3 separate regions of the Homo sapiens genome follow, and regions 2 and 3 are each linked to region 1. Evidence: fine-mapped expression QTL. A gene starts in region 1. Each other region holds a variant in brackets. All regions are shown on one strand. Distances are from middle to middle.

Region 1 (8,383 bases):
CAGAATTACAGCAGATTCAGAGAGACTCCAGTGCAGCCACGTGGTGGAAGATTTATAGACAAAAAAAGGGAAGTGAGGTAGAGAAACACCTGGATTAGTTACAGGTTGGCATTTGCCTTATTTACACACAGTTTGAACATTCAGCAGTGTATGAGTGATTGAAGTACGGCTGCTGGGACTGGCCGAGACTCAGCAATTGTGACAGGTACATACTCCTAATTTAGGTTTTCAATCTTGTCTACCTATTAAGTTAGGCTCAGTTTGTTCACAGGGACTCCAATACAGAAGTACGGAGTCCTTCTCAGGCCATATTTAGTTCGCTTTAACAATTCCCCCTTTTTGGTCATTTTATCAGTTTTGAGAGATTGATCGAAACTTGAGTTATTGATGTCACTGTCACCATTGGTCTTGAAACCCACTAGGAAGCAGAACAGTGAGTTTTGCAAAGGTAGGAACAAGGACTGAGTTGAGGATACCACCTTATGCTGGAAAGTCCTGTTTGCAAGAGAAAAACAAAACCTGGTCTATTCTAGGACCCATGTGTTTCCTTAAAGTCTTAATTCGATTATGTCACATTTAGCACGAATGATGCCATTTTGGTTCGGTTTGGTCTGTTGGGACCTAGTGCTCAGTCCAAAACAATGGCCTCCCATCATTTTGTTTAAAAAATTCCCCCTTTGTCAGGTTGTCACTTAGGCAAGAGTGTGACCAAAACTTAGGATGTTAGCGCCACTCTCCGTTACTATCATTTTGGATTTCCAGTCTCAGCATGTCACTCATCGGTTTCGGTGTCCTCGTGGTCACACATTTCTTTCAGCTCTTGTCATTCCAGTTGAAGAGAGACCATCTGACGTTCTAAAGATGGCTTCATGCAAACATTTAAAACCTTTGAGAGAATACAGTGCACCAGGGAGACTATTCTTATGACTACTGAGAGGGTTAACACCAAGAATTTGGAGTATGCTCCTTAGCCAGGGTCCCCATAAACCAGACCACCTAAACTCAAATAGACCATTCTTTGACTTAACTCAGTGGTCTTTTCGTTAATTCCCTACAACAGACTCTCTATAACACCTGATGTTTTCTCCATAGGCCTTAAGTGCCAGCATCTGCACAGGTACTTTCCTGTTTAGCCAATTCTATTTTTTAGCATAACTTTCACAAGAGAATTTAACATCTGTTGTGTAGCCTTTACAGTAGAATCTGCTACAGAGTCTACCATGAGGGATATGTTTCTAGTCATTGCCTTTTTAATTCCAAACCATGGAAAAAGGACCTAACAAATGATGCCCTTCTAGAAGAGGGAAGGCCTCTTGGCAATGGTCTCTTTAACCCATGCTGTGGGTTAAGAGGAGTGAACCAATGTTCTGCTTCTGAATGATTATGAGGCACCATATGTACCATTGAAGTTTCTCACCTATGATACACTGGGCCTTCATCTTTATCTATCAAGTTATAAGATTATCCATGTATAAAGCTGGCTGCAAAGCCCTTCACAAATAAAAGTATACCCCATAAGTGCACAAAACAGACCCCCTTCTCACTTCTGTTGTTCACAGAGGCGGAAGCAACGGAAAAACATTCAAAGATAAGAGTCTCATGATAGTAAGAAGTCTTGATCCATGATCTTCAGAAAGAGCTGCTCACATCAAGGATGCCATCTTCTTCTGGGGAGAAACTTCCCTGATTAGCTTTACCTTAAGGGTTTCAATGGATGTAGAGTTCCAAGAGTGACCCTGCTCAGTTGTGAGATTATGACCCCAAGGTTCAAGATCCTGATGTTTTGTTGCAGTGATGATGCCAAGGGCAGCGTTTCTCTGATGTTCTCAGAAGATCCCATCTTTGGGTTCTAGATTGTGAAGGGGTTGATTGTCCTCAGTGAACCATAAAAAGCTCTTTACCTGGTGAAAATACACTGATACATAGTAATCTACTGTTATAACATTAGCCCTCCTGCATGGGAAAGCTTTAGTACAACCAGAACACATACATTGAAAATGACAACTGAATGAAACCCCTTTATAAATGTTTAAATGCCTCATCAGGTAGCCAAATGTACATGAAGCTTTGATTGACTTCCCAGGAGTATGGGTTTGACAAACTAAACATTGTTTATAAACTATTTTAACAATCTGTAAGTCACCACACCAACATATTTAATTTGGATCATTTTATCTTTTCCAGGATGAGTCATGGAATGCATAACTTTTAATAACAAAAGCTTTAAGGACTCACGAAGGACAAGGCAGCCATCTTGGTTCTCCATGAGTCCATGCTTAACATCGGACTTATGTCCTCTTGGGTGCCAGTTGTTTCTCCAAATTGGGCACATAGCATGGATAACTGATGGGTTATCACAGGTAATTTGACTTAGACCATGGAGTTCATTCAAATTGTATATCTAAACAATTTCAGTATAGGCTGATTAAGTATGCAAACCTGGTGAAGCATTTCCTCGGTATTCAATTAATTTTTATTCTATTTGGGTTAGCAGTTTTATAAGCCAGTCAGTCTTTTCATTAAAGTTTCAGCAATTCTTACCCAGTCCAAATGATGTGATTTTGAAGTTACTAGAAACCTGTATTCCACAGTGCTTTTCAGGGTCCTCCCCATCCGTTCACGAACCTCCTAAAAGACACCATGTTCTAGGATTTTTGTGTGCTTGTGAAGTTTTCAGAAACTACATCAGCATGAAGCAATTAACTGCGGAAATGACTTTAAATACTCAAAAAGACACAATTGACAAAGAAATTTGGTTATAACAACAACATAACCATAATTATGATCGGTAGCATATACTCAGAAAAATTAGAATTTTAGAAATCCCATACAACTTTGGAACATATATTAATATCATTCACTAAAATATAACCTGAAGAAGGTTAAATTTTTTTTTTGACACTATTCTGTATCGAAAAGTCCAAAATGTTTCTTAAAAAGTAACTAAAAAAACACTGGAGTAATTAAAGGACACTTCCTGTGCAGGGGATGGAAAAATCTCAACAAAAAAGGAGCGCAGAAGAGCCTGGCTAGGCGGGAGAACACGGTCAGGCCCGCAGGAGACGCCGCGGCACCTGCCAGAAAGAGAGCCGCAGGCCAAGACCAGGAGACGCGAGAGAGGTGGGCAGGGCTGCCCGAGAGACCCAGGCGGCCATTGCCCGCCCTGCGTCTGCGCCTGCGCCGGAGCCTCCTCCACACTGCGCCAGCGCCGAGTCCGGCCGCCTCCTCATTGCGCCGGCGCCGGGGCTTCCTCCACACCGCGCCTGCGCCGATGACAACCCGCCTCTACAGGACGCCTGCGCAACGCCATAGTCACCTCATCAGCTCCGTGCACTTACGAGTCTCTCTCTGATCGACCACGTGTTCCTGTCGGCTCACAGAGGCCGCCTCAGGGTCCTCCCCCATTGTCTTCCTCGCACCCTCCACTGTTCCCGGCCCTTCACTCTGCGCTTGCGCAGGAGTCGCTCGCTCCTCTCTGCGCCTGCGCAGAGGCCACCTCCTCCCCGCCCGTCCGCTCCCTTGGCGTCGTCTTGGGCCGCGCCCCGACCCCTTCTGTTTACGCATGCGCAGGAGCCGCCCTGCGCGGGTGGGGGGCTGAGCCCCTGTGGCTTCAGGTTTAAAGGCGCGAGCGCCACCCACGCAGGCACAAGGGCTCCTAGTCGTTTTATTTTTAGCGTAAGGTTTTCCTCTTTAACAAGGAAGTAAAAAAAAAAGTTGTGCAATAAATATTAATCGTCCTTATATGTACTCGGGAACGTTCGTCCTTTAGGTTTTCTCCTGGCGCATGGGCGCCGCCAATCATTTCGGGGCTTATTTTGGTTCTAAAGCCCGGGGCAGCCAGGCCTCCCTGCCTGGCCTCGGCGGGGACGCGGGACCTGGGGCCCCGGACCGGGCCTAACCGCCCTGGCCGGTCCCCACTGATGGTGGCGGTCGGTCCTGATCGTCCTGATGGCAGCGACCAGGCTGGACTCGGGCTGTGCAGGGGCGAGGGGAGCAGGGCGGGGTGACGCCCGGAGAGCGGCCTGGAGAGCGCGTGCTTCAGAAGGCGTGGGCACCCTGTCCCCTTTGCAGATGGGGATGCAGGCCCTGGTGGCGGTGGAGGGGAGATGGGGGCAGGGACGTTGCCGGGCAGAGGAAGCTGGGTGAGTGTGCACTTGGTCCCCTTTGCTCCTCCCTGGGACTTTGGGCTCTATAGGGCAGCCTCCGAGGCCCACGTGCACACTCGGTGAACCACAGTCCAGACACAGGCAGGGCGGCAGGCCAGGGAAGGAGAGGCCAGGTGTTGGTGCATGGAGAGGCCAGGTGTTGGCCTGGGGGTGCTAAGTGAACCCCCAAGGTCGCGGAGACAGTAGGGCAACAGCAAAACGAGCTCTGCCGTCCAGGGCGAGGGCCCGGAGTCCTCCCCAGGGGTGGGCTGCAGAGAAGCCCCTGTCCAGGCCCTGCTCACCTGCAAAGTGCTCCCGAGCTCCTGTGCCCCCAGCAGCAATCCCAGCCCCGCTGACACCCAAGCTTGTCACCCGCTGGGTTTCTTGAGGTCTGAGGACCGTGGCTGAGGGTGCATGGGCGCTGGGATGGAGGGGGATGTCCTGTCCCAGTCTGTGCTTATTAATTGTTAAAGAGGGCAAGGCTGCTTTTATTCAAGGTGGGGGGGCTGCTAAAGCGAGATGTTGGGTTAGGGGAGGCAGATCCGGCTCAACTCCAGATAGAAAAAGTGGGAATTGACAGCCCAGGCGTAGGGTCGGGAGTGGAGAGAAAATTACTAAGAGGAAGGGTCAGGGGCAAGGCGGGTTCTAGCTGCATAGACAGGATTTTTGCTGAAAAGGCAGGCAGTGTGGTCACAGACCGAGGGTGGGAGTTGAGGACTTTGATCAGGGACCAAGAGTAGACGATTTTCACTAAACCGACTCAGCAGGATTCTTGCTAAATCGGCCGAAACCGGCCAAGGTCAGGGACTGGTCACAGGGAGGGCTCAGAGGAGCCTGACTCGAGTGTGGTCAAAGGAGAGAGTCTTTGTCATCTTTTAAGAGGCGAGAGTGACGTATTAGTGAGAAACGGTGAAGGGATCAAGCTCAGGCCAGCAGCCCCGAGTTTGAGATGAGGACAGGCTGGGTCCAGGAAGGGCTGCAGGAATAGGGGGCACCTGAGCCTGCAGAAAGCGGGGAGCCCAGCCGCCAGAGCAGGCACCCCCAGGCAGACCTCAGTGTGTCCTGCCCTGTGGGAGTGGCAAGGCCAGACCAAGCTGGATGTGAACCAGTCCCAGAACACCGCCTAGAATTTGGATTGTAATTTGTTATCGATGATATTGCTGCTTGGTCTCTCTCCTCTTCCTCCCCACCCCCACCCAAGATGGAGTCTGGCTTTGTCCCCCAGGCTGGAGTGCGATGGCAGGATCTCGGCTCACTGCAACCTCCGCCTCCTGGGTTCAAACAATTCTCCTGCCTCAGCCTCCCAAATAGCGGGGATTACTGGTGCGTGCCACCACACCCAGCTAATTTTTGTATTTTTGGTAGAGACGGGGTTTCATCATGTTGGCCAGGCTAGTCTCAAACTCCTGACGTCGTGATCCGCCCACCTCAGCCTCCCGAAATGCTTTGGGATTACGGGTGTGAGCCGCCGCGCCGAGCATGGCCATCGTGGCTACATCAGTCCCGGCTAATAGAGATTTTAGCACACTCAGATTCTATTGGCTAATAAGATTTAATTATAATTCTGGGGTATTTAACAATGTCGTTATACAGTCTTCATTGTTGCAAATGGAGAATGAAATCGGGTGCATGTGACACTAATATGACCTGTTCATGCTCTGTCACTTAAACGGAGTTAAGTAACATAGCCCTGAGCAGGAAGACTCCTTCCCCACTTCTGTCCAGGAGCTCCTTACTCGATTCTGGGGAACAGAAAGGCTTTCAGCGGCCAAGGGGAGTGACAACAGCCAGACATGAGACACCTCCTAGAGCCCTTTGGTGTTACCCTTTCCGGTCCATCAGCCACAGTGTCCACCCCAGGTAGCTGGGTCCTGAGTTCACCGTCTCAGGACATTTTTCGACCTGGTTTGTCTGAATTATTATTATTATTGATCATTGAGACAGGGTCTCAGTCCATCGCCAAGACTGGAGTGCAGTGGTGTGATCCTGGCTTACTCAGCCTCCCAGGCTCAGGTGATCCTCCCAGCTCAGCCTCCTGCGTAGCTGGGACCACAGGCAGGCACCACCATGCCTGGCTAAATTTTTTGTATTTTTTGTAGAGACCAGCTCTCGCTATGTTGTCCAGGTTGGTCTCAAACTGCTGCCTCAGCCTCCCAAGGTGCTGGGATTACAGGCATGAGGGACCAAGCTCAGCAATCTGAATTATTTATGCAGAATTTTTTTTTCTCTAGCTGGAAGAGCTGTTTATATGCACGTTTCTTTGGGGGCAACTCTTCTCCATTGTCACAGATTTTTTTTTTCCAAGCCATTCCTGGGGGATTCCTGGGAGCCATGTGGGAGAGGCGTGAGGAAGTGAGACCTTCACCCCGAGACAGGTCCTGACACACCCTCTGGTGCCTCTACTCAAGTGAGGTGAGAGGGGAAACTGGTGTATTTTTAGATGAAGTTTCCTTGGGAAATTGTTTCTATTTTATATTTTATCAGTAATCCCCTGGCTAATGTTTTAAACCAATATTTATAACACTGCCTCAGAGCTTTGGAATAAACAGATTTCCATAAAGAAAAGCTGCTTTAGAGTGCTACACTGTAAGAGGGGCCGGGCAAACAAGAAGGGACGGAGGAAAGACCACCAAGTGAGAGGCACAGGTGTCAGGACACACAGAGAGCCCGAAAACGAGGCAGAGGTGAGCGGGGACCAGCAGCACAGCGGCACTGACGCGCCAGGGACTTGGGCTCTGCTGGCCTCCTCCCTCGCGGCCAGCAGTGGCAGTGGTGGGAGTAGGCCTGGCTTGTCTGTGGTTGCCTTTGTTGCTTTAATTGAAAGTACTCAAGGCTATTTCTTGTCGCGTCATTTCTGACAGTGTCCGGTGGTCCCTACCCTGTAATGCCAGGAGGTTCCAGCCCCACCCTTCCCTCCCCACTCCCTCTTTCATCTCCCGGATCCTATTAGAGGATTGCTTTTATAGCTGATGAGCTGATGAAGTATGCATTTAGCCCTTTAACCGTAACTGAATTTCCCCTGGTGCACATCTGTATGAAGGGTGTGCACCAGGGCTGAGCCGTCTGCTGGGCGAATATGTCCCTCCCTGAGGCCCAGGACCACAACCCCTGAGTCACTCAAAGGAATCGTTCCCAGCCTTAAGGTCAGATGCGCTTTCTCCTTGTCCTCCATTATTTCTTTAAATTCCTGCCACATTTAAGTTTCTTTATATTTAAACTAAGACCTTTTATTTCTTAAACTTCTAATTGCTGTTCTTTTATTATTTTTGATAGAAGTTTGGCTGCTGTAACTGACTGGGAAGCTTAAAATAACAGACAATCATCTCTCACATTTATGGGGACTGGGAAGTCCAAGACCAAGTTGCCATCTGGGGAGGGCCTGTTCCTCACAGCGCCTTCCAGCTCAGGCCTCGTTTATAAGGGCACTCAAGCCTTCCACGACAACGGGTCCTCATGACTTACTCACCTCGGAAAGCCCCACCCCCAAGACCATCACATTGTGGGTGATGGCAGAGCATAAGGTGCCTTCCCCACATGCTCGGGTTGGCCCAGCGTCTCACGCTAGCAGCTACGTGGAATAGTTATTTTTTCTGGAGAACTCTGGGACCCCTCTGATGTCTTGGAGCACCCACACAGGCCGTTCACTGTGCACGCTGTGAGGCTGTCGTCTTGGAGCACCCACACAGGCCGTTCACTGTGCACGTGGTGAGGCTGTCCTCTGGGGAGTTCTGCTGTTGTATGGGTTCTGTCTGTGTCAATGTCCCAGCGGGAACGCAGGGCACACTAGCGTCATCCCCAGAGGGCTTGGTAAGGGGACTGTTTGCAGAGACATAGGCAGAGGGCTGGAAAACTACCAAAAAAGTGCAGTGTTCTGGACCTAATAATAGCAGAGCTATTCTCACCCTGGTCTGAAGGCAGGAGGGGAGGAGCAGTTAATGGATTCTGGAAGTCAGGTTGCACAGAGTCACCTTGAAAGATGCCATGACCTTCACCGAGGGCCAGACAGAGACTAAGATGACCCCATAGGAGAATAAGACCTAGACCTCATCCTCCTGCCTCCTGCCAGTCCCTGCCAGGGGTCGCCAATGGCAAAACAGGACTGGAAGCCAGAGGCCATGGAAGCCCATGGATGAAGTCCACAGGCCAGCCTCCCCGAGAGCAGCCTGGACGGTCCGCAGGAGACGTCTCCTGTCTTAGGCGTCCCACGCCGCGTGCTCCTGTTCAGCCCTGCCGAGGTG
Region 2 (8,383 bases), 33 kb after region 1:
CAGGTCCCCGTGTGCCCGTCTAAGAACCGCGAGGCTTCAGGCCTCCAGGAGGTGTCTTGCGGGGGCAGCCGCTCTGACGTCGCCTCTGCCCACTGTGTCTGGATCCCTCGTGAGGGGCCCCCAGACCAGAGGCAGCCGAAAGGTAGAGTCCAGATGCGGAGGGAAAGACGTGATCTCCGAATTCCGTGATGACAGGTGGGCAGCGGCAGCTGGAATTACACACCAGTCCCACAGCTGTGGTTTTAAGCACTAATATTTTACAGGTAAGAAGCTCCATCTCCCACGGCAGATTGCAACCGTCAGGGTTGTTAGATTCGTGCGGACCGGACGATGCGTCTAAAGGAAAACGGACCCAGGCAGGAACAGCAGCGGCCGCCCGAGTGTTGGCAGAAGCAGGCCTGTTGCTGAATTGTGACGTTTGTAGAAATCGCTGTTTTAGCCGCTGTTGGCTCCTCTCAAGCTCCTGACAGTGATCCCAAGATCTGCTGGGAAGCACCTTCCCCGGCGACTCCTCGGGGACACCGGCTCCAGCTGCAGCCTCAAGTGACCCCTTTGCCGGAGTCCAAGAAAAGAGAAGCTGCTTCCGTGGACTCTTCTGTCCCAGATGAAGCCGCAGCGGCAGGAAGTGGTAGCTGGCTGCTCTCAGGGTTTATTTGGTTGGGACAAGAGGTCCCAAAGCTGTCCTTGGGAAGGAGCTTAGGCGGGGCTGAGCTGATGTGTGCCTCGAGGAGCGGAGGGAGAGACAGGGCAGGAGACAGGGAGAACACGGTCCAGAGGCAGCGGGGAACAGTGGGAGGGAGAGCCGGGCCCTCTGCAACGCCGGCTGTGGGCTGGGACAACAGGGGAGGGTGAGGCAGTCCCAGCTCTCAAGGCCTCTGGCCCAGGATGAGGTGTGAGATGGCCAAGCTGCCGTGGGGCCGCCCGGGAGGAGGAGAAGCAAACCCATCAAGGAGGGCTCACAGGCGTGGTGATATCTGACGAGGCTCCTGAAGGGTGGGTAAGAGTTTTCCAGGAAGGGTGGTTGGAGGGAGCACTAGGCGAGTGGCCGGCACGAACCAAGGCCTCGGGTCCCCAGAGCCCTGTATGGGTCGCAGTTGGGTCTTCCCAGGTTAGGGTTGAGGTTCGGGTTATGTCTCTTCCACAGCCCTTGAGAGCAATAGGATTTCAGCAAATGTAGCTTGTGTGGTTTCTGATGGTCAGAAATAATCCACATTTTAGGATTTCTGTAATCCTGTACTTTAAAACTGGCATCACAGACCATTGCCCCTGCAGACAGCAGCCTGGGCCTCCAAATGGAGGGGCCTGCGGGGGGATGAGCTGTCCGGAGGGTCCACACTGGAGGAGGGGGCAGGCCACGGCCCGGCTGGAGAGCCTCTGTGCCTAGTGGGCCCCGGAGCCCCAGGTCCCTGGTGCAGGGGGTGGAGGTCAGGCAGGCCCTGGGCAGCTGATTGCTGCCTGAAGCCCACCCTGAGGAGGGAGGGAGGCAGGGGAGGAGACAGAACAGATCCCTTGGGGGAAGCAAACCCACATTCCCAGACCCAGGAGCGCCCACGTCAGGGGGACCCCAGGGAGGGCCAGCCCTGCGTGTACACCCCTCCTGCCAGGACCCTGCTTCGGAGGTCACACCAGCTCCTTGTGGAATGGTCTGTTGGAGCGGACCTGACCTGGAGAATCCACGCCTCTCACACATGGAGCTGGGCAACAGCTGGCACCCGCCCCCTCGGCCTCAGCCTCCCTGGGGGCTCCCCCGCCACAAGAGGGGCCGTCCCGGGTGCTTTGAGTGGAGTGAGCTAGAGAGTCGGATATTAGGGCCACCTAGGAGAGCCGGCCTTGTCCATCGCCTGGCCGGGGCTGGACTGACGTGAGCTGTCTCCAAGTCCAGGAGGAAACTCACAAACTCTGAGCTACACAGCAGGTATGAGTCCTGCTGCAACACAGTGCGCTTTAAAAAGTGTGAATAAATTGAAACTTCATGAAATAGCCTATATTTACAATATCCAGACAAAATTACCTCTTTTTGTCTTTTATTTATTTAGTTACTGAGAGAGGGTCTCGCTCTGTCACCCAGGCTGGGTGCAGTCACGGCTGACTACAGCCTCGAACTCTCAGACCCAGAGGTCCTCGTGCCTCAGCCTCCTGAGTAGCTGGGACCACAGGTGGGAACCACCAGGCCCAGCTAGAATGCTTTAAAAAGAGTCATCTAAGGCAGAGGTAGAAGTTACAGCTCTAGGGCCCAAGTCAGCCTCTGTTTTTGTCCAACAGAGGGCTAAAAATGATGTTTATATCTTTAAATAGTTGGAAAATCAAGAGACTATTTTGTGACATGTGAAACTTATAGGAAATTCAAATTTTAGCATCCATAAACAAGGAGATGTGGGGACACAGCCACACACACTCATCACGTGGGTCGAAGGCTGCTCTGGGCCACAGCGGCAGAGGTGAGCGTTTGCACCAGAGGCAGAGTGACCTCGAGGCCTGAAGCACACCGTCCAGCCCTTCACAGAGCGGCGTGCCAGCCCAGCTCTCGGGCTCCCTGGCAAGGCTGGAGCCGCAAGGGGCTCGAGTTTCCCCTGCCCGCAGCCCCCATAACTGGAAGCTGGCTCGCCCAGTGCCCTGATCCCACCCGCCGGCCCCTTCCTGTCCACACATCCCCGCTTTTCCCTGGAAGCCTTTGGTGACAAGTGCAGACACTCTGCCCCTCATCGTCTGGGGTCCTTGGCCGCCTCTCACCTGTCCCCCAGGTGGCAGGTGAGGCCCTCGGGTCCACTCTGAAGGTGATGGGCTGATGCTCCAGGCCGGACATCAGGCTCCGTGACAGCTGGTTCTACACCGTCTTCTCCGGCTGTCCCTGGGGTCACGCCCCTCTCCTGCTGCAGAAACTTGGGTTTCCTCCGTGAGGCTTAAATGAGAGCAGCCTCAGGACAGATGTCCAGGAAAGGCCAAGAGAACTCAAGCTTGACTGTTCCTCAAGCCTGCTCTTGACAGACAGAAGTGGGTTGGGTGAATCTGAGGAAGAGGGGAGAGGGCCTCGCCCCATGGGGCAGGCTTGTTACCGTCAGGACGGGGCTGCTTTGGGTGCTGAGTCCTGGAAGCCGCTCGGACCCATCCATGACTTCTTATGTGTGCTGTCGGCAGCTGACCAGCGGCCACGCTATCCTGGACGCGTGGGGATGGAGCTACGGGGAGGGTGCGGTGGTGACTGCTCCACTGCAGAGCCAGGTATCGCCAGGGGCGCCAGGTGAGACCCAGCAGAGACACAGGTGGAAAGGAGTGAGTCCTCCAGGGTCCCCTGAACAGTCAAGTTCCACCCATTCAGTAGCTTCAAAAACAGGCTCACGATTTGGTGTGGGCCCTGGTCTCCAGCTGGGTTCCCTCACCTTACGGCTCCCCATGGTCACCGGCAACCCAGCATCCCACACTCTGGATGGGGGTCAGGAGTGGAGGCGACAGGAGGCGAGGAGGCGAGTGGGCGGCACAGACAAGGAGGGAGCCCACCCCTGCTCTAGACAGAGTTTAGGAGTGGAGGGGACCGAACAAAAGGAATCGTCTTCATTTCACCTTCTGGTAAGAACAGGCTTTAGCCAAGGAAAGGAGGGGTGGACGTGCAAAGCCCTCCCGTGCGGGAGCCCTGGGACAGAGGAACCATCCCACAGCCCCCCGGGAGCCGCCGATCCCCCCGACACAGCCCCCCGGGAGCCGCCGATCCCCCCGAGACTGGCCTGCACCTGCACATCTGGGGGGCGGGGCCCCGAATTGTCCTGCCACAGTGGCCCCGCCGGCAGGGAGATCAGAGGAAGAAATAAAATCCTCAGGCCTCACCTGGGATCCAGATTCGAGGCCGGAAGAGCAGACTTTGCCGGGGGCACTCACGCAGATCCCCACGTCTCAGGGCACCGCAGTCCTATTACCATAAGCGATCATGCAAAGGTGTGGTAAAAGCCATCTGTCATTCATAAAATGTGATGATGCCTTTCTGCAAAGACATAAGCCATCCCGGGGCTCAGCCAAGAAATGGCCATAAAATCCGGCATAATGACCTCAAAGCACACTTTCCAATATAAAGAACTTTCTAGGCAGCTGTTTCCAGAATTTATCTGTGTGCAATAATTTTACACCTAAAACTATCACTGTGTTCTGTGTCTGGTGGCCTCTTTAGCAGTTCCTCCCCTGTAACAGCAAGAAAGTGCCTTCAACATGCTGATGGGCCCCGGGTCAACATGCTGATGGGCTCCGGGTGACCAGTGACAGCATCAGGTTCGCTTGACAATGGCTTTGCCGTCGGACACAGGCGCAGGTGCCTGGGGAGGTGCCGTCTGTCTTTGTGATCCCCCAGGTTGCCAGGAAGGAGGAGCTCATGCCTCTGTTGAGAAGAGCAGGTTTTGTCTTGGTTGGACTCAGAGACCCTGAGAGCAGGATTTTCCCTCCCAAGCGCTCCCCAGGGGGAGACCCCTCGGGCCAGGACTCCCAGGGCCCACACAGAGCCTGGTGTTCGGAGGACAGAGCCTGTGGGGACCAAGGGCAGGCACAGCTGGGCTCGCACCGACAGCTGGGGAGGGAGGGGGAGCTGGAGCCTGAACTGACC[C/G]CTTTGGTGGTGGGGTTGGTGGGGTACAGGGAGTCAATGGCCCAGCCCCAGCGACAGCACAGCAGCTTCCCCAGGAGGAAGGGGAGGCTGAATAGGAGAGAGAACCCCACCTCCTCCACACCTGAGGCCGTAGCCCGAGGCTTTCACTCCAGACCCAGGCATGTACGGGCTCTGATAAGAGGTTCCCTGTAATTTATCCTCACTTGAATCTCAAATTTGCTTCTAAATATCCAATCTTTTTTGTCTAATGTATGCGTTTTCATCCCTAATCACCAAACCTGTAGATTACACTCATGCATGAAATATTTGGTGAATACCTTTTAATTTTACAAAATGTCTCCTTCTGAAATTACTCCTCCGCACCCAGGAAAAAACAGAATGATGTCACTGCCAACTTCGAGGTAAAAGTATTTCGCAAATCTTAACAATTTTAGCTTCTACATGCACGTTAGGAAGTGTTGATGGACACAGGATCATACTCTACCTATTGGAGGAAGGAGACGATTTAATTGATCATGTCTTCAATTCCTGTCCCCACCCTCCCCGGGCCCCTCTGTCCTGGGGGGCCGTGGCCTCGCGATGATCTAGGCTGTGACAGAGGAGCACCCAAATCCTCTTCAGATTCCTTTCAACTCGGCTGTGACGTCTGCGTCTTCATAAGAAAGGACGTGTTTCCGAGCGGCCACTGAGAACTACAGGCAGGCCGACCGGCAAACCACCCACAGCCAGCACCGGGAGCTGCAGAAGCCACGGGGCCCTCACAGGGGTTCTCTGTCTCCTCCATGGAGGTGCTCCCTGTCTATCTGCTGGGCCCGCTCACAGGGCCCCTCCACGGATGGTGCCCGGCCTCCCTCACGTCCTCGAGGCGTCCCTCGGTCAGGTACTTAGAATCTGCGTCTCCCACCTGCTTTTCCCAAGGCTGCAGCTTCCCCTGGACAAGAGCGGAGCCTGGGCTCCCAGTGCCAGGTTACTAGCCCAGGACCTGGCCCCTGGCAGATGCTGGGCATAGGCTTATGAGAGGACTGAAGTGGCTGTGTCTCCACGCAGCCGACAGCTTCACGAGAGAGAAGGGGAGGTCAAGGCCAAGATCCAGTGACAAGAGGACCAGAGCCCCATGACTAGCAGGCCACAGATGGCAGCTAGTTTAGTCCTCACAACAAGGTGAGAGCCAGCAGCTCCCTCCCACAGCAGGAAACTGAGCTCTGAGAGATTCCCTGACATGCCCAGTGCCGTCTGGCTGGTGAGGGACAAGCCGGACCTAGCCCCCATGTGCTGGCTCCAAGCCCACCCTCAGCCCAGCCCCTCCCACAGCGCTGGCCTTTCCTTCCCACACCCCAACTGCTGCCTCCAGCACGGGGACCCCCAGGGAAGGGCAGGACCCTGGGAAGCAGATGTGGGCTTCTTGTTCCTAAGTGTCCAGAATTCCAAGATGGCTTAAACCCAGCATAGGGCTGAATGGGTGAGGCTGGCGAAGAGGTCAAGTTTCTCTGTAAAAATAGTGACCACAATAATAGCAACGTGTGCTTTGTAGCAAAGACTCACTGAGACTCTGCGTGCAAAGTGCTAAGGCCGGCCCAGCTTGCGGCCACGCCAAGTGCCGTCTGCTGTGGGGCCAGCTCCTCCCTCCTCCTCCAGTTCCTCGGGCTGTCTGGTCTGGGGATGTGGCTTTGGGGCTCGGTGGCCTGCAGCCCATCCCCTTGCCTTCAAGGGCCCCTTAGGGCACAGAGCACCCCGTCAGGTAGCATCCCCAGGACGCGGGGCCGGCTGAATCCCTGGGTGCTGTGCCCTCTGCTCTGCCTTCTCCGGGGCCCCCGGCAGGATTGGCCTCCCCGACTCCGGCAGGAACTTGGTGCGGCTGTCCCAGCCCTGGGCATCTTCTCCCTCAGGCTGCGGCCTCACAGGGCCCACGAGGGTCAGAAAGCAGAGGTCTGGCTGTTTTGATTTTTGGGTTTTTATTGAGACAGGGTCCAGCTGTTGCTCGGGCCGGGCTGCGGTGGTGTGATCACCGCTCACTGCAGCCTCGGTTTCCTGGGCTCAGGAGATCCTCCCACCTCAGCCCCCTGAGAAGCTGGGACTACAGGCACGCACCACCACGCCCGGCTCATGTTTTTATTTTTTGTAGAGATGGGGTCTCCCTCTGTTTCCTCAGCTGCTCTCGAACTCCTAGCTCAATCAGTCCACCCACCTAGGCCTCTGAAAGTGCTGGGATGACAGGTGTGAGCCCCTGTGAGCCCAGCCCCTGGACTTTTTTTGGACTCTTTCATATAACTAATATGTAGGCCTGGAAGTCTGGTCATTGCTTTAAGTAGTTTCTTGGTAGAGAACTAAGAATTCTATGTTTGAGAGGCCGTAGGGGCCACATCTGACCCACTTCCTTCTAACTAATTTTTGTTTTTTTTGAGACAGAGTTTCTCTCTTGTTGCCCAGGCTGGAGTGCAGTGGCGTGATCTTGGCTCACTGCAACCTCCACCTACCAGGTTCAAGCGATTCTCCCACCTCTGCCTCCCGAGTAGCTGGGATTACAGGCATGCGCCACCATACCCGGCTAATTTTTGTATTTTTAGTAGAGACGGGATTTCTCCATGTTGGTCAGGCTGGTCTCGAACTCCTGACCTCTGGTGATCCACCCGCCTCGGCCTCCCAAAGCGCTGGGATTACAGGCGTGAGCCACCGCACCGGGCCCAGGTAGAACTATTTTTAAAGCCAGCTTTTGTTCATTATACCACACTGTGTCTACGAACAATCTGTAGACTGTGTGCTCGTGTGCCTGTGCACCGGTGTGTGTGTGTGGATGCCGTGAACAGACTCTAGATTATCTGCCTTTTGGAATTTCCCGACATTGTGTGACCATCAGAACATGATCAGTGTTGCGAATGCTCCATGTGTAACGGACTGTGAGTCCTGTGTTTGACGGATACAAAATAAAGTCAAGCTTTTACATTGTTTTATTCTTGTGTTTTCGGCTTCTTGATCGGTTGCTTTTAATGAAAACGAATGAGTTCTATTTTCAAAGACCCTCAGACGGTGGGTGGGGAACGGATAGCCCAGGAGTCCAGCGTTGGGGCGGACTGGCCGGCGGGCCAGCGACAGCAGCCGGAGGGACGAGCACGACCCTCCCCAGCCACCCCGCGTCCCCCGAACCCAGCCCAGCAGATGCAGAGCTCACATTTTCTCCTGCTAGCGGCTCTCCCGGCTCCCCTGTGAGCCCCGATAGCCAGGCCCATTGCCCGTCAGCACCCACAGCCAAGCGGGAGGCCTGGGGAGGAAGGAATATTGTCCCGTTCTGGCTTTGCCGGCCAGGATTAGAATTGCACGCGGCGCAGCATCTGGCGCCCGCTGGACGCTCAGTAAGGACAAGACGGCTCTCCTCCTCCTGCCACCCAGAGCCCCAGCCTCCTCCCAGCACCCCCAGGCTCCCAGAATAGGCTACGGCCAGAGCTGGCCTGTGGTAAACAGCTCGGAGCCTCCGGGCAGGTCTTGGATGAGTAACCCTCAGCAAAACATCGTGGGATCCAGAAAGGTGCAGGTGCCAGGCCTGAGCTGGGTGGGCCCCTCCAGCACCCCCACCTGGACCCTCCGCTGGGCCACTCCAGGCCAACGCATGGGTGGAGGTGCAGGGGGAAAGCCAGCTCTTGGGCTGCGGTGCCCGCCTCTGCCCCACCTCAGGAGGCTGGGACGTCCCCGATCTGTGTGGGAAAGAAAACCCGTCATCCTGTTGCTGATGGGGCCTCAGCGAGTCGTGGGGGGCCCCTGGGAGGAGGTGGGAGGCACATAAAGCTCCATCTGCTCGTGGACTGCACA
Region 3 (8,383 bases), 98 kb before region 1:
CCTAAGCCAAAAGAACAAAGCTGGAGGCATCACACTACCTGACTTCAAACTATACTACAAGGCTACAGTAACCAAAACAGCATGGTACTGGTACCAAAACAGAGATATAGATCAATGGAACAGAACAGAGCCCTCAGAAATAACGCTGCATATCTACAACTATCTGATCTTTGACAAACCTGAGAAAAACAAGCAATGGGGAAAGGATTCCCTGTTTAACAAATGGTGCTGGGAAAACTGGCTAGCCATATGTAGAAAGCTGAAACTGGATCCCTTCCTTACACCTTATACAAAAATCAATTCAAGATGGATTAAAGACTTAAACGTTAGACCTAAAACCATAAAAACCCTAGAAGAAAACCTAGGCATTACCGTTCAGGACATAGGCATGGGCAAGGACTTCATGTCTAAAACCCCAAAAGCAATGGCAACAAAAGCCAAAATTGACCAATGGGATCTAATTAAACTAAAGAGCTTCTGCACAGCAAAAGAAACTACCATCAGAGTGAACAGGCAACCTACAACATGGGAGAAAATTTTTGCAACCTACTCATCTGTCAAAGGGCTAATATCCAGAATCTACAATGAACTCAAACAAATTTACAAGAAAAAAACAAACAACCGCATCAAAAAGTGGGCAAAGGATATGAACAGACACTTCTCAAAAGAAGACATTTATGCAGCCAAAAAACACATGAAAAAATGCTCACCATCACTGGCCATCAGAGAAATGCAAATCAAAACCACAATGAGATACCATCTCACACCAGTTAGAATGGCGATCATTAAAAAGTCAGGAAACAACAGGTGCTGGAGAGGATGTGGAGAAATAGGAACACTTTTACACTGTTGGTGGGACTGTAAACTAGTTCAACCATTGTGGAAGTCAGTGTGGCGATTCCTCAGGGATCTAGAACTAGAAATACCATTTGACCCAGCCATCCCATTACTGGGTATATACCCAAAGGACTATAAATCATGCTGCTATAAAGACACATGCACACGTATGTTTACTGCAGCACTATTCACAATAGCAAAGACTTGGAACCAACCCAAATGTCCAACAATGATAGACTGGATTAAGAAAATGTGGCACATATACACCATGGAATACTATGCAGCCATAAAAAATGATGAGTTCATGTCCTTTGTAGGGACATGGATGAAATTGGAAATCATCATTCTCAGTAAACTATCGCAAGAACAAAAAACCAAACACCTCATGTTCTCACTCATAGGTGGGAATTGAACAATGAAAACACATAGAAACAGGAAGGGGAACATCACACCCTGGGGACTGTTGTGGGGTGGGGGGAGGGGGGAAGGATAGCACTGGGAGACATACCTAATGCTAAATGACGAGTTAATGGGTGCAGCACACCAGCATGGCACATGTATACGTATGTAACAAACCTGCACAATGTGCACATGTACCCTAAAACTTAAAGTATAATAATTAAAAAAAAAATTAAAAAAAAAAAAAGAAATATCATCTCACCCCAGTTGTGATGGCGTTCATCAAAAAGACAAAAAATAACCAAGGGAACTCTTGACACTGTTGGTGGGAATGTAAACCAGTACAGCTACTGTGGAAAGCAGTGTGGAGGTTCCTCACAGAACTACAAACAGAACTGAGGTAGGAGGTGGGACTCAACTCCAGAGGTGGGGCTCGAACACCGGACCAGATTGAGGACTAGCTAAAACAGGGCTGGGGCGGAAGCAGCTTTCAATCAGACACACCCACCAGTGCCATGGAAGTTTATCGTTGCCATGACGACACCGGGAGTTACCGCTCCTTTCCATGGCAATGACTCAATGACCCAAAAGTTACTATGCCTTCCTTAGAAATTTCTGCATAAACCGTCTTTAATCCGCGTGAAATTAAAAGTGGATTAAACATGACTGCAAAACTGCCCCGAGCTGCTCTTCTCTTCTTACAGGGCAGAGAGGGTAGCCCTGCTCTGCAGGAACCGTCTCAGAGCTGTAACATTTCTTCTTTATTAATAAAGCTGTTTTTGGCCGGGCACAGTGGCTCACGCCTGTCATCCCAGCACTTTGGGAGGCTGAGGTGGGCGGATCACGAGGTGGGAAATTCAAAACCAGCCTGGCCAAAATGTTGAAACCCCGTCTCTACTAAAAATACAAAAATTAGGTGGGCGTCGTGGTGCGTGCCTGTAATCCCAGCTACTTGGGAGGCTGAGGCAGGAGAATCTCTTCAACCCAGGAGGCGGAGGTTATAATGAGCCGAGATCGCTCCACTGCACTCCAGCCTGGGTGACAGAGCAAGATTCCGTCTCTAAATAAATAAAGCTGTTTTCTTCTTCCTTTGGCTTGCCCTTGAATTCTTTCCTGGGCAAAGGCAAGAACCCTTGCAGACTAAACTCCACCTTGGGGCTCACCTGCCCCACATCAGAACTACCATAAGATCCAGCAATCCCACTCCTGGACATTTATCCAAAGGAAAGGAATCGGTATATCAAACCAATATCTGCAACCCCATGTTTATTGACAATAGTCAAGACGTGGAATCAACCTAGGTGTCCAACAGCAGATGACTGGATAAAAAACGTGGTATATACACACAGTGGAATACTAGTCATCTGTAAAAAAAAATGAAGTCCTGTCATTCATGGCAAAACGGATGGAACTGGAGGACATTATGGTAAGTGAAATAAGCCAGGAACAGAAAGTTAAATACTGAATGTTCTCACTGACATGTGGAAACTTTAAAAAATGTTGCTCTCATAGAAGTAAAAAGTAGAACAGAGGATATTAGAGGCTGGGAAGGGGAGGGAGAGGGGACGGATAGGGAGAGATTTTTTAAAGGATATGGAATTACAGCTGGATGGGAAAAATAAGTCCTATGGTTCTTTGGCACTGTAGGGTGACTATAGTTAACTATAATTCATAGTTTCAGATAGCTAGGAGGAGAAATTATCGTGTTTGAGACGATGGATGTGTTCGCCACCCTGATCTAATCCTTGATTCATTCTATGTACTGCAGCATCCCTGTGAACCCCACGAATATGTGCCATATTGTGTCAATTAAAAAAATAATAAGAAGTAATTGAGAACCCTAATAAGTATGGTTTATCTATTAACATTTACCATGTTAAAGATGAAAATGGAGAACAATTTAAAATCTTAAGAGTATTAGTCTCTAGAGGGACAGGACTAATAGGATAGAAGTGTATATGAAAGGGAGTTTATTAAGTAGTATTGACTCACACGATCACAGGGTGAAGTCCCACAGTAGGCTGCAAGCCGAGGAACAAGGAAGCCAGTCTGAGTCCCAAAACCTCAAAAGTAGGGAAGCCGACAGTGCAGCCTTCAGTCTGGGGCCAAAGGCCCGAGAGCCCCTGGCAAACCACTGGTGTAAATCCAAGAGTCCAAAACTGAAGAACTTGGAGTCCGGTATTCAAGGGCAGGAGGCATCCAGCGTGGGAGAAAGATGAAGGCCGGAAGACTCAGCCAGTCTCGTCCTTCCGCATTTCTCTGCCTGCTTTTATCCCAGCCACACTGGCAACTGATGAGATGATGCCCACCCAGATTGAGGGTGGGTCTGCCTCTCCCAGGTCCACTGACTCAAATGTGAATCTCCCTTGGCAACACTCTCACGGACGCACCCAGGAACAATACTCTGCATCTTTCAATCCAATCAAGTTGACAATAGTAACCATCACATTAAGTAACCAATTAGTGAAAACTCATAATGAATCCATTATGCTAATGAACATCAAGGATTATGTTATGTTCATAACATAACATGTTACGAAAATAACTATATTTTCTTTAGAAACTGGTGACAGGAGTAGCATTGTTTAGATGTGTGAATGCTCCTGCTGCCTGGCTCCTGGGAAACAAGTTTCCCATGTGGAATTCTGTATTCAGTCTGCAGTGACATCACACGTCAGTTGCCTCTGCACACTTGTGAGAGAACGGGAGTGGAAAAGGCACTCAACACTTCAGCCATGAGAGGAAACCTGTTTGAACTAAGAGTCCCCTAAGAGGGGAGCCAGCACCACTTAAAAACCTTTAAGTACTCTCAATAGAAATCTTTAGTTCACAAGATGTTTTACAAATACCTTATCCTAGTCTCCATATCATTTGTGGAAGGGAAAGTTTAGATTTTATTATTATTTTTTAAAAAATTATTATAGATATATTTATTATTAAATTTTAGTCAATTTTATTAATCTTTTGATCATGTGATTTTTCTATGTATTTTGCG[A/C]AATCCACAAAATGTATTCAAAATATATTTTCTTATATTTTCATCTAAAGAGTCTTGCTATATTTATAAAGTTTCTCAGTCCACCTGAAAATAACCTTTGTGTATGTCTTGAGGTATAGATCTAAAGGTATCTTTTTTCAAAATGAAGAGCCAATTGCCCAAACGATTGGGCACTTTATTTGTTTTCTAATAGACTAAGTTTCAACACAGAAGAGGGTCTTCTTTGGTGCTCTGTACTCTTTTCCTTTGGTCTATTTTTCTCTTCTACCAAGATATCATGTGGCTGTAATTGCAATGGATTTATATGGTGTGCTTATATCTGGTGTAATGTATCCTCGACTTACTTTTTCTCCTTTAAAAGTATCTTGGTTATTATTGTCCTGTATTGTTTTTGGAGTCAGCCAGTCAAGTTTTAAAAAACACGTAAACAGATGCAGGTGAACGTGTCCCCATGGGTGTGTGCTTGGTGGGAACTGCATCAAATTCATCACCTCACTTGGGGAGACTTCATCGCTTTACCATGCAGGTCTCACCACACCTCCCCATTTATAGACATCTTTAAAAATATTCTTCACTGATATCTTTATTTTTTCATAAAGTTATTACCCTTGTCTTAGTTGATGTATTCCTAGGTAACTGATAACTTTTGTTGATGTCAAATGAAATTGCTTTTTATAATTATGAATTGGGTACTGCTGATAGTTTTGTTTACTAGTCTTGTGTCCAGTTGAACTCTCTTATTTGTTATGACCTTTTAAAATGTAGATTTTTATAGGGTCAATAAAGAATGATGGTTTCCTTTTATTCCTGACCCATTGTTCCACATTTAGTTCATTTTCTTGCATTATTGCACAAGCCGGTAACTCTACCCGAGGTTGCATAGAAAGGGTACATAGAAAGGGCATATCTTTGCCTTGCTCCTACCTCCCAAAGGCAGTTTCTGAAGCTTCACTGTCACATGTGGTGGCTGCTTTTTCTAGTCTATGATTTAGATGCTGCTTTTGCATCAACTTAGCTGTGGATTTTTTTTTTAATGAAGTTTCACTCTGTTCCCCAGCCTGGAGTGCAGTTGTGCAATCTTAGCTCCTGCAGGCCTAAGTGCTCTCTATAAACCCCAAGTGCAGCAGGCGGGAGGAGACTCTGGCTATGCACAAAGTTTGCTGGTGGGAGGACAGAGCCAGGAACTCTGTGTGTGTCAGTAAAATGTTGGGGTGACAGTCACCTGGGGGGAAAGCCATCACAGAGGCACTGACATGAGCTGTGTGCATTGGGCAGTCTCTCCACCTCCAAGGGCCTCAGTGTCCTCTCAGGTGTGAGGGTCAGTGGTCCCCGTGGCCTACTGCCACATTCATTGAAATGCTACATGTCCAGAATATGCTATTTACTGGGGGGATAAAGGGAAAGAAATATACTTTGCGCATATTTCATACGGAAGACAATAGTGATAATGCTTCAATTAGTGCATTGGAGATGCCAGGTTGATTGTAAATGAAATTGTGCTGAGATCTCAGCTCTGCACCATAATTGCACTAAGTTTTTTGAATAGAAAACACTTTATCAAAGTTGTGACTTAGTGAGGAGAGATTGCTAATGTTTTTTGCAATGGAGTCTGTTGCTTTATCACATCAAAGATTTTGTTACAAATGCATGCCAGGTGACCTATGAAGTCATAAGCCTGCAGTAACTCACCTGGCTGGTGTAGAGGAGTGTAATTCTAACACGGCCATCCCTGTGGTAAGGGGAAAGGAAAACACTGAAAGGTTGCTTCTCTGTGAACAGAGTGGCTGTTTCCAGGTTTCTGACCCCAAGGACGTGGGTTCCAGTGGACACAGTGAGCCAGGCTGTGGGGTTACACAGCATGTACCATGATGATGGGGGTTCCTTCCTCTTAGGACTCAACACGCCCAGGGCCCTCTGGAAGCACACTCTGGAAGCTGTCCTTCTGCTCTGTTGAGGGGTAAAGAGTTGGTGAATCACCCCCAACCCCTCTAGTCCTTACTCAGTTTCCATCTAACACTACAGATGGGGCCTCATTATACAGATGCAGAAACAGAGACCCTGAGAGAGGTCTGGCCAGGCTGAGGCCCACAGTGAGTTCGTGATAAGGTAGGACCAGAGCCTGGGTCTCAGGCTCACGGTGCTCTCTGTGACCCCACTAGGTCAATCCTCTGTAACCTGCTTTAAGGGAAACAGGGTGGGGCCACACTCCCCGCAGCTCAGTCTGACCCTGTGGATCTGTGGCCTGAGAGTAGGACACATGCACCAGAATAGGTGATTCGGAGCCTGTGGTCCACTCTCAGCCTGTGTCCCCCACCCCACAGGCAGGGCCACTGCTTCCAGATTAAAGGAAAGGTGAGTTACTTAGCGCTCATTAACTCACGAAGTCAGAGGTAATCAAGACCAGATTGAACTTCCGTCCAATCGACTTAGGCACTCTCATGTTTAAAAATCCATATGGGGAAAATAATGCAAGAACGTAATTTTTTAAAAAGAATGTGGAAAAGTGGTGTAAAACTGTTAATTGTTCTTAATGTGAGCTGCAACTTTGGCCTCACTGTGGCTGCTCCGTGACGGATACTGAATGGCGGTGGGGCTCCTTGGAGCTTGCTGAGGGTTCCCGCCTGTATCCACTTTCCCTCCAGTCACATTATTTTAAGAAGGGAAACTGCCCCCCATTCCCTGCCTCCCTGCTTCCTTTGTGGTCCTTGGGAAAAAGAAATTCCACGAAGAAACTAGTCTGTGCTGCTGGGGTAAGGACAGTGTTTTCCCTGGAGGAGGCCACGCTGGAGGGACCACAGAGGCACTGCGGGCAGCTCACACCCTGCTCCAGTGTCCAGGTAATGGCCACAGGGTGAGCTTGGTTTTTCAAAATCTACTGAGCACTTTTCTGTAAGTACATGATATTTCAATGAAGCATTATGAAATTATATTATCAGAAGCCAAATTTGGTTTGTTTCCATTGGGTTTTCAAGGTCTATTTTATTCCTATCCTTTCCTTTTTCTTTACATTTTCTCCTCTTCTTTAACTAAAAAAACCTCTATAAGTTTGAAAGACTCTCAGGTCTTCAGGATAAAATGCGAATTGGTGCTTTAAGCTTTGTCCCTTCCTGCAGTGGGACTCACAGTCCCCTTTCAGAGACCTGCTTGGTCAAGGGTAGTTATGGGAGTTTAGCGTCAGCTTGGGCAGCCTTCCCTGCTTCATGAGCTGACCCACTAGGGGCAGGATCACATGAACACACGTCCTCATCTCTGACACCCTGAGACCTTAAGCAGCAAGTGCAAAGGGAGGACATCCTATGAGTCTCCCTCCTGTGGCCTCAGGTGGGAGGCCACAAGTATGCTCACAGCTCCCGCTCCTGGTGCCTGGCAGCTCAGACCGTAGCTACTTCTCTAGGATTTTTGCACCCAACTCACACTCTCTCCATCCAAGACTCAAACAGTGTCCCCCTGCCTTATGCCCGGTCACCCTGTTCTCTTCTGCGTCCAGCCTCAGTTGTTCCTCCTGACCCAGCCCCTGCTTCAGCCCAGGACCACCTGAAGCCTCCCCTCTGGGTTCCAGCACTTCCCTCCGTCATGATCTGCACTCCTGCTTTTTCTCGCATGATTTCCCCTCCTGCCACTCCTCACCATCTAAAACAGTGTTCACTTCTGTTTTGCTGTATTGTCTGGCTGTCCTGTATGTGTCTGAGCTCATGAGGGATATTGCATCCCTGTACCCAGGAGAGTGTCTGGCAGAGAGCAGGTGCTGCGCAAACAAGCAATACATGAGTAAGCAAGTGAGCCAGAGAGTACAGGCAGTACCCATATGCCACAGCTTCCCATGCGGCTCTACTAGGAATCACTCTGCTCCACGGCCAAGGCCTCCCCTCCCTGTGTCGGTGTCCCCGGCTCCATGGCCAAGGTGTTGCCTCCTACTGAACGATTCTGAGATGCCTGAACACCATGTGGTTAATCCCAGAGGAAAGTTTCACCGTTGGAATCCAGGCCCTGGCAGGAACTCAGAAGGGGGCCTTTGTCAGCTGCCCTCATCTCCCTTTGGTGAGAGAGCACATTAAAGGCCGAGAGTCCATCCATGAGAGCAGCGCCGGGCGACACACGTAACTGCTAAATGAATGAGTGAACAATGAACAAACTCTGGAGGCAGAGTCCTTA

Which allele goes with the higher level. Alleles are on the strand shown, and positions count from the first base shown. SD is a standard deviation of normalised expression in the study named.
For the expression in activated CD8 T cells of the gene that starts at base 3,728 in region 1, allele C in region 2 goes with a higher level than allele G (large effect, 1.1 SD a copy in Schmiedel 2018).
As copies of A replace C in region 3, the expression in monocytes of the gene that starts at base 3,728 in region 1 goes down (large effect, 1.5 SD a copy in Quach 2016).

Evidence for each region. PIP is the estimated chance that this variant, and not a neighbour inherited with it, causes the effect. A credible set is the group of variants that fine-mapping cannot tell apart.
Region 2: its variant is the best candidate, but not a certain one, in a credible set for the expression of LINC03014 in activated CD8 T cells (Schmiedel 2018, PIP 0.58).
Region 3: its variant is the best candidate, but not a certain one, in a credible set for the expression of LINC03014 in monocytes (Quach 2016, PIP 0.63).

What each region holds. Positions count from the first base shown.
Region 1 is chr7:145,991-154,373 of GRCh38, forward strand. LINC03014 (long intergenic non-protein coding RNA 3014) reads left to right here and starts at 3,728. Exons shown (of 2, transcript NR_108065.1): 1 at 3,728-4,142; 2 at 7,419-8,383. LINC03015 (long intergenic non-protein coding RNA 3015) reads right to left here and starts at 3,448. Exons shown (of 3, transcript NR_134325.1): 1 at 3,339-3,448; 2 at 2,542-2,628. RefSeq lists an enhancer at 3,179-3,473.
Region 2 is chr7:178,749-187,131 of GRCh38, forward strand. LOC105375116 (TRIO and F-actin-binding protein-like) reads left to right here. Exons shown (of 4, transcript XM_017012903.3): 4 at 264-1,978. The coding sequence ends at 467. It overlaps LOC124901806 (a long non-coding RNA gene), which reads right to left and starts at 3,585. Exons shown (of 2, transcript XR_007060631.1): 1 at 3,378-3,585; 2 at 2,013-3,207. LOC124901808 (a long non-coding RNA gene) reads right to left here. Exons shown (of 2, transcript XR_007060632.1): 1 at 8,150-8,383; 2 at 7,510-7,838. The variant C/G (reference allele first, on the strand shown) is at 4,583.
Region 3 is chr7:48,383-56,765 of GRCh38, forward strand. No RefSeq gene overlaps it. Among named protein-coding and RNA genes, the nearest start is that of FAM157D, 17 kb to the left of the region's middle. The variant A/C (reference allele first, on the strand shown) is at 4,232.